Linked DNA regions of Homo sapiens: region 1 is reported to be linked to region 2. Evidence: microRNA targets listed by miRTarBase, many of them from high-throughput screens and not tested one by one. Region 2 holds a microRNA gene; the other region holds the end of a gene's coding sequence.
The links. Region 2 holds the annotated microRNA hsa-miR-4427 (UCUGAAUAGAGUCUGAAGAGU, at 2,358-2,378, shown strand). A microRNA usually pairs through its seed, bases 2 to 8, with sites in the 3' UTR of a target mRNA and lowers its output. Matches are read on the target gene's strand: a 7mer-m8 pairs with bases 2 to 8, a 7mer-A1 pairs with bases 2 to 7 and ends in A, and an 8mer does both.

Region 1 (4,389 bases), not on the chromosome of region 2:
TTTTTTAATTTTTTGTAGAGATGAGGTCTGGCTATGTTGTGGCCCAGGCTGGTCTTGAACTCCTGAGCTCATGCATCCTCCCTCTTCAGCCTCTCAAAGTGCTGGGATTACAGGTATGAGCCACTGCACCCAACCTCCGTTTCCTTTTTTTTTTTTTTAAGACGGAGTCTTGCTCTGTTGTCCAGGCTGGAGTGCAGTGGCCCGATCTCAGCTCACTGCAACCTCCGCCTCCTGGGTTGAAGCGATTCTTCTGCCTCAGCCTCCCAAGTAGCTGGGATTACAGGCACCTGCCACCACGCCAGGCTAATTGTTGTATTTTTAATAGAGATGGGTTTTCACCATGTTAGCCAGGCTGGTCTTGAACTCCTGACCTCGTGATCTGCCTGCCTCAGGCTCCCAAAGTGCTGGGATTACAGGCATGAGCCACGGCGCCCAGCCCCGGCCTCCGTTTCTTACTTTCTCTCAAAACTAAACTTATGAGAAAGACGAGTTGGGGCGGATGGCCTCATCAGTCTCCTGTTTGGGCTTCTCTTAACTCTGAAGGAAAGACCAGCTAAAGGCTAGAGAGAAAACCGTGAAAGTTCCTCATCTCAGACCCGCCCTGTGGTAACCGATTGCTCTAAGACGCCCCCTCCCATCCCTCCCCTCCCACTACCCTCCCCTCCCAGGGCGGTGCAGTTTGTAGCCAAGAGCAAAATGCCCGCCTGGAACCCGCGCCTTCCTCTCTAACAGAGAGTTTCTCTTTCTGTTTCTCTTTGTGTTGTAGATTCCTAGAGGGGAGTGCCTGCGAGCCTCGGGTGAGCCTTCCTGGAGGAGCCTCCGTCTGCTTGTTCCCACAGGCCTCCAGCGCCCTGCCCTGTGGACAGCCCACCCCTCCGCAGCCCCATCCCTGCGGGGCGGTCTCTCTCTCTCTCCAGCATGCTCCCTGCGGCCCTGCCCTCCCGCCCAGCCCGGGCCACCTCGTGGGGGACAAGTCTCGCCAGCGCCCACCCCCATGGCTCGGGTCAGTCCTCATCGCTCCCCCTCCCCACCCCGCGCAGGCCACTGAGACGGTGGGACACACGCCCCTACCTGCTCCTTCCTGGGCCCTCAGTCCACCCGGGCTCGTCCTGGCAGCCCTTCCGCGCTTCACACAGTGCCTTTTGTGAAAGTGTCATCACGGGTCCCCTGAGGAGACAAGGCAGGTCCAGCGCACATCAGGCGGACTGAGCACTCGATGTCATCCGTGTCGATGTCATCCGTGTGTCCCAGACTGTCTGCTGTAGAAAACACTTCCTCCTCTCCTGAGTCTGTGAAGTCCTCAGTGGTCCTTTTTGGATTCTAGGCTTGCACCTCATACTAAACATTGACCCTTTCACTATGCCCTCAACCTGGGAGCATCTGGCAGGCAGGGGGGCAGGTACACACACACCCACAGGCACACCCACCAGTACACACGCGTGCGCATACACACATTTTGGTTTGACGCCCTGTTTTCAGTGGCCTGGGGAGGTCCACACTGGAAGTCGAATTCCAGCTCGCCTTGTTGACTCGCCTGTGTCCACCGGCCATGAGGAGCCCACGCCTGTCCTCCCCATCACTTTCCTGTCCCTGAGAACTGTAGATCATGCGCTTGTGAGCGAGGCCCTCCCCTCTGCACCAGCTCATTGCAAAGCGAACATCCTCTCCTTTCCAGGAGCCCCAGGATTAGCATCTGAAAAGGGTAGCACTTCCTTTTTTGTTGTTGTTTTTTTTTTTTTTTTGAGACGGGAGTCTCGCTCTATTGTTCAGACTGGAGTGCAGTGGCATGATCTCGGCTCACTACAACCTCCACCTCCTGGGTTCCAGCGATTCTCCTGCCTCAGCCTCCCAAATAGCTGTGATTACAGGCGTGCACCACCACGCCCGGCTAATGTTTGTATTTTTAGTAGAGACAGGGTTTCACCGTGTTGGTCAGGCTGGTCTCAAACTCCTGACCTCAGGTGATCCGCCCGCCTCAGCCTCCCAAAGTGCTGAGATTACAGGTGTGAGCTACCGCACCCCGCCGAGGTTAGCACTTTCATCACCAAAGACCCCGTGCCTCTCGTGGTCCTTTGAGGGATCCCGCCGCCACCACCCTTGTATTTTATCACGTGCTCTTCAGGGCATGTGGAATTCGTTGAGTTTGCTTTTAGAGCCAAGTTTCTTTCCCTGTGTGGGTTTTTGAGGAAAACCTGAGGTCCCCTAATCTGTGGCCACCACCCCCCCCCCCCGCCACGCCTTAGAGCAGAGCAGCCCCTCCTCTCATTTGGTGCAGAAACAGTCAAGAGGAACCATTGGCCTAGAGCTCCTGTGACCGAGAGCGCCACGGAAGCCTGGGGATGACGTCGGGCAGCTTTATTCTTTGCTTGGCTTTGGTAACTAGGTGGTCCCCTCAAGCATCCTCAGTTCCTCTTGCTGTTTATGAATCTAAGACAAGGAAGTCCTATAGAAGCCAAAGGGACAGGGACGGAAAGGACAGGTCCCAAGGGATGGGGCTGTCTTTACTTGTGGAAACCAGGAAATTGCTCCTCTCAGCCAACCAAGGTTGACCACACACCACCCTTCCGGAGCAGCTCAGTCAGCCCTCGGGGACGAGAAACCACAAGCGCAGAGACGCTGAGGCCCAGGCAGGTGAAGAGGAAGTGGCTTTGGGTTTTTAAAGTAGGTGAGCGTGAGCCTCTCTGACTGCTTCTTCCCCGGGGGGGACTGCAAACCGCTCAGGGTTGCGGCAGAGCCATGGACTTCCGGTCCCTGCAACGGGTGACCTAAGCGTGGTGCACCCATCAGTCACGCAGGAGGACTGACTTGACAGACGAAAGACAAGCCCGGATGACACAGGGTGAGAAGAGTCAGGGCCGCACCTCTGTCCCTGCAAACCAACAGGTGCATGGTGAGTGTGGCAGTCCCCACAGCTCCACAATGGGCTCCCCCGCCAACGGGGACGACAGGGATCTTCAGGAACTTCTGACCTCACCAAGTCAAGTGGACCACTCTCCACTCCACGAGGATGTGAAACGGTTCTTTAAAATGGGATTTTAGAGCCTCGGGAATGCATGTGCGTCACATCTTTCATATTATGGGTCAGGATAGATTCATTTCTTGCAACATAGTGGAAAAGATATAAGCTGCAGTAATTTGCTCTTTGAATGACCGTCACCCCCAGTATAGGATATGCTTGTATCCCCCCGTCACTCCTCCGCCTGTTTTTTAAACTTTTCCACCACCTGCGTCCAAAAAGAATGTTATAGCGAGTGCTCTTAAATGTTGAACCTGGGTGTTGCTTCCGGGCCAGTCTGCGTGGCTCCATGAAAAGCTCACTGCTGCCCCAGCCGGGCTTCTTAGAGGAGGTCAGTTGTCCTATGTATCATCATTTACTCTGGGAATCCTACTGTGAAATCATGTCTGTATTTTTCTGGAGCAGTTCACATAGAGTAGAATGTGGAATTTCCCGTGAACGTCTCCTTCCTCCCCCGTATCTGCCGCCTGTCACTTCGCCACCGTGCTAGAATACTGTTGTGTTGTAAGATGACTAATTTTAAAAGAACCTGCCCTGAAAAGTTCTTAGAAACGCAGTGAAAGGGAGGAACTTGTCCTTTACCCAGTTTTTCCTTTGTAGGATGGGAAAGTATAAAAAGGCACAGAAGGTTGTCATGGGCTGTTCCTTGGGGGTTTTTATCCTGCTCACCGTGGAGATAAGCCTGCGGCTTGTCTAACCAGCGCAGCGCAAAGGTCTCGATGCCTTTTGGTAACATCCGTCATTGCAGAAGAAAGTTTACACGACGTCAAAAAGTGACGTTCATGCTAAGTGTTTTTCCAGAAATATTGGTTTCATGTTTCTTATTGGCTCTGCCTCCTGTGCTTATATCATCCAAAAACTTTTTAAAAAGGTCCAGAATTCTATTTTAACCTGATGTTGAGCACCTTTAAAATGTTCGTATGTGTGTTGCACTAATTCTAAACTTTGGAGGCATTTTGCTGTGTGAGGCCGATCGCCACTGTAAAGGTCCTAGAGTTGCCTGTTTGTCTCTGGAGATGGAATTAAACCAAATAAAGAGCTTCCACTGGAGGCTTGTATTGACCTTGTAACTATATGTTAATCTCGTGTTAAAATAAAATATAACTTGTGGCTCCGTGTCACGGGACTGTTTTGTTGCATGAAGATATGACCCTAGTTGTGGAAGCAGCCTGGTGTCATTGGAAGCCCCCTGGGCTGGGGAGCTGGCCCCTGGGAGGAGCTGGAGACCTAGATAGCTCTCAGTTCCACCCCCATCCACGGTGGAGGGGGAGGCTCTCAGACCGTGGTGACGTGGAATTCGGGCTGATGTAGTGCGAGGATTGCGAGAGGCTGCTTATGGCCAGGAGTATTTTTTGCATGCACATTCAACTGGT
Region 2 (4,389 bases):
GACATAACTGTGAGTCCTATCAAGGACAGAATCTTTGATTGAACCAGTATCCTAAGGGAACTCTGGTGCTCTCAGAACAAGCTATTTTATGACATTGCTCATTGGAGTGTTACTGTGTGTGACTGTCATTTTATAGCCCCCGGAAGATACTGCTACTATTATCAATAACTTGGAAGAAATGATGTCTCTTCTTTTATGACATAACTGTAAGTCCTATCAAGAACAGAATCTTTGATTGAAGCAGTAACCTATTGGGAACTCCGGTGCTTTGAGAACAAGTTGTTTTATGACATTGCTCATTGGACTGTTGCTGTGTGTGAGTGTCTATTGTCTTTGGAGCATGTGAATTGCCGACACTCAATTGTTTTGACCCATAAAAATGGCAATTCCAGAAGGTTCAGTTTACTACAAGGTTGGTTTCAGGGACAGAAATCTCATCTGCCTCATATACTCTGACATACTCAGAGTTGCACCTGCTGGCTTTTATTCTCCAAAGACATCTTCCAATTGTATTATTGACAAATCCGTGAAATACTAAGGTGCTGAAGTTCTCCATTGACTGTGTCATGCCCAGGTGGCTTATTCAAGGCAGGAGATAAAGGTTGTCACTTTATTGGAAAGCAAGCAACTTTTGAGGTGTTTTATTGACTCCTGTGATACTTCTATCTCCTAGACTCAGTCTGTACTCTGACTTTCTTTGTTTCTTTTGCATGGATCCCTTATTTTTTGTTCAATCCCCAAAGTTGGTGGCCCACTCTCTGTCAGCAGCATATTGCAAGGTGATGCCCCCGATCTGAGGCTGAATGGAGGAAGAAAGAGAATAGGGAGTTGGAGATGTAGAGTTTGTGCACCTGAAAGGACTGTGGGATTGTCTCCTTGAACTTGAGTCAGATCAGAAGGGCTTATCTGTGACTTTCTACTGGTTTTCATGTTTGCCTTCTTTAATTTGGAAAACAGCTGATTGTTATATTGATGAGATTAATTTGCTTAGGTTAGACATGGGAGTGTTTTTAATTTGCTACCGTCTGCTTGATCCCAGATCAGAGTCTAACTTTTTGCATTAGCTCCTCTGACTGGGATTGACCAACTTTGTGAAATAAAAGCCTGCCCGCTGCTGCCTCTGAGACTCAGTTATTAGTACCCATGGAAGGGCTTTAGGCAGAAAGCTCTCAGGGAACTCAGAGAGAGTCGGTGAAATCATGGCTGATGCATTCAGAGGACAGAAAGCCAGGCACAGAGTGTTAAATACAACATTTTCTCACCCATATGTGGAAGCTAAAAAAAGTTAATCTCAAACAGTTTTTCTAATGCACTAACTTCTGGGATTATCTTTTCAAAAAGAAACAATGGAAGATAATGAAAACAAATGGAAATGGTTAGCAAGAAAAAAAAAAGGTTGGCTTTATAGAAGTGAAAAGTAAATGGAGCATACTAGCATCTGGGAAGGGTACGGGGAGGGGGGATGGGGAGAGATTTGTTACAGGATACAAAATTACAGCTAGATAGGAGGAATAAGTTCTGGTTGTCTATACCACTGTAGAATGACTATAGTTAACAGTAATATATAGTTTCAAGTCACTAAAAGAAAGGTATTAAATGTTCCCAACACAAAGAAATGATAAACATTTGAGATGATGGATATGGTAATTACCCTGATGTGATCACTGTACATTATGTGTATTGAGGTATCACTGTGTACCTCATAAATACGTAAAATTATTACGTGTCAGTTTTAAAAAGAAGAAAGAAACCTTTTGTTTTTTGTTATTGAGACGGAGTCTCGCTCTGTCACCCAGGCTGGAGTGCAGTGGCGTGATCTCAGATCGCTGCAACCTCCACCTCCCAGGTTCGAGTGATTCTCCTGCCTCAGCCTCCTGAGTAACTGGGACCACAGGCGCATGCCACCATGCCCGGCTAACTTTTGTATTTTTAGTAGGGACAGGGTTTTGCCATGTTGGTTGCCATGCTGGTCTTGAACTCCTGGCCTCAGGTGATCCACCTCAGCCTCCCAAAGTGCTGGGATTACAGGTAGCGTGAGCCACCGCACCTTGCCAAAAAAGCTTTCTTTAAAAAAAAGAAAGTAAACCTGAAACTATTCAAGTCAAAAAACAAAACAAAAGCAGGTAGAATGTTTCTAAGGGATTTAGAGAGAGTAAAACATGTTAGGTTTCATTTCTCTGAGTATGATCAATAGAGTTGGAGTTGGAGGCTCCAGTTGTTTACGGTCATCTCTTGTTATGTGGGGGGCTCTGTGACCTGAGTTAAGCTATTTACTCAAGTCGATGCCCCAGTTCCCTATTCACTCTGCTTCACTGAAGCCTCTTGGGGCTTATTTAGACAATGGTTTCATCATTTCGTCTGAATAGAGTCTGAAGAGTCTTTGGTGGAAGTATGCACTGAGGAGGGAGGCGGCAGAAGTGCCCTATCCCAGGAAAGTGTGCTCCCCAGGATGCGCTGAGCCAGGCACACACAGGACTTGGGGCTACTGAGAAGCAGGTTCTTTTCAAGTTCTGTTGTCCCAGACACCTCCTCCATTTCTTCCCGCTCTTTCTCCACAGCACTTAGCTTTCTACCTGCTGGTTCCCGTAACATCTGTCTTCACCTGGCCTCACCTATCTTCACCTGGCCTCACCTGTCTTCACCTGGCCTCACCTGGCACCTGGTTCCCATAGCACCTCTCTTGGCCTCACTTGGCATCCCTAGCACTCAACAGGTGCTCAAAAGGAGCAACTTAAGGCACATTTCTTCATATGTCTGAATCTGTGCCTTTTCTGAAAAATGAAGAAGGTTCTAAAGATGTTACTTCTATTCAAGAGACCTTAGATATAACTTTATTCTCTTGATGAGGAAACAGAGGCCTGCATTGCCAAAATGGGTTTTGAAGCTATTCATATAAAAACAATGATATCTGGGGGGCCTCATGTGTACTCGGTGCACCACAAAAGGCCCTAAGTGATATAAAGAGAAGAGAGGCATTCATTCCTCTCTGAGTATTTGTGGAGCACTTTGGTTACTAGGTGCTACTCCAGGCACTTAGGGATATGTCAGGGAACAAAACCACAAAAATCACTTTTGCCCTCCTGGATGTGTCAGTCTGGGTTGGGATCGGAGATACAATTGTAGGGGCCAAGAGAAAACTTCTCCTTCACCCTCTGAAGTTTCACTGAAAATCACCTGATAAAAGGCAGATTAATAGGAGAAAAGGCATATACAGTTGCTTGACCATAGTTTATGTGACATGGGAGCCTTCAGAATGAAGACCCAAAAACACAGGGGAAACCATTCACTTTTATGCTTAGGTTCAACAAAGTATAAACAGGTGTGTAAAAAATAGGATTGGACCAAAAGGGAATGATCTAAATCTTATAAGACCAAGCGGGGAAGCCCAGCAAGGCCTGTCTGGAATCTTCTCGGCCTCTCTGAGCATGTATTCCTTCCTTCTGGGTGTGGGGCAGCACCCTCTCTGGAATGGGGATTCTTATGACCTACAGTCAAACAAGATGGGTCATATAATTTCATTGGCCAGTTTTACATAGAAAGGTGGAGGAAAAGTTTTATGGTTTTATGGCTGGCTTTGGGGAAATGGGGTTCTGGTCTCTAGGATCCACCTTGGGGAAGAGGTATTCCAGATTTTATGGCTAGCCTGGGGGAGGATGAGGGGTGAGAGATAGGAGGGCAGGAGAAGGTCGGAGAAAAACTTTTGCTTCTGGGACCTTGATTTTGGGTTATCATTTTCTGAGCTCCAGCATGAACAAAGAGATAACTAAGGGAAATGCACAGGATGTTAGGTGGTGATAGGTGCTCAGGAACAACAATGCAGAGCAAAGGAGATGGGGAGTGTGTGATTAGTGTATGGTGAAGGGGGCAGAGTCCAGGATCGTAGTCTTCCATAAAGTTGCCCGTGAAAGCCTTACTGAGAAGATGGCACTTACGTAAAGAGTGAGAGGAGGTGGGGAGTGCCTTATGCAGTTTTCTGGGGAGCTGTGTTCCAGAACAAAGGCACCTATTGGAGGTGCAGCTAGAAAGTGACTGTGGCTGGAGCTGAGTAAGAGGGGAGTGATGAGGTCAGGAAGAAGGGGAGGGAGCAGATGCTGTAGGATGTCCTAGGCCACTGCAAAACATCTGGCTTTTATCTGAGCTAGGGGAAAAGCACCAGGAGATTTTGAGCAAAGGGTTGACACAATCTGACTGACTGTTCCAACGCGTTCACTCTGGCTGGTGTAGGAGGGCAAGGCTGAGGCTGAGACTAAAAGGAGGCTCTTCTGATGACCCAGGGGGTCATCGGACCACCGATGCCTCTCGGTGACTCAGAAAAGTGGTGATGAGAAGTGGTCAGATTCTGGATTCATATTGTTGGCCAAACCATCTGGCTTTGCTGATGGATTGGAT

Region 1: miRTarBase lists FNBP1 as a target of hsa-miR-4427. The part of its 3' UTR that is shown has no 7-base or 8-base seed match.

What each region holds. Positions count from the first base shown.
Region 1 is chr9:129,886,924-129,891,312 of GRCh38, reverse strand. FNBP1 (formin binding protein 1) reads left to right here. Exons shown (of 17, transcript NM_015033.3): 17 at 767-4,126. The coding sequence ends at 774. Among named protein-coding and RNA genes, the nearest start is that of MIR6855, 20 kb to the right of the region's middle. RefSeq lists enhancers at 1,456-2,343, 2,298-2,387, 2,718-3,117.
Region 2 is chr1:233,621,838-233,626,226 of GRCh38, forward strand. It overlaps MIR4427 (microRNA 4427), which reads left to right and starts at 2,315; the gene lies at 2,315-2,382. All of the region lies in intron 1 of KCNK1 (potassium two pore domain channel subfamily K member 1), which reads left to right.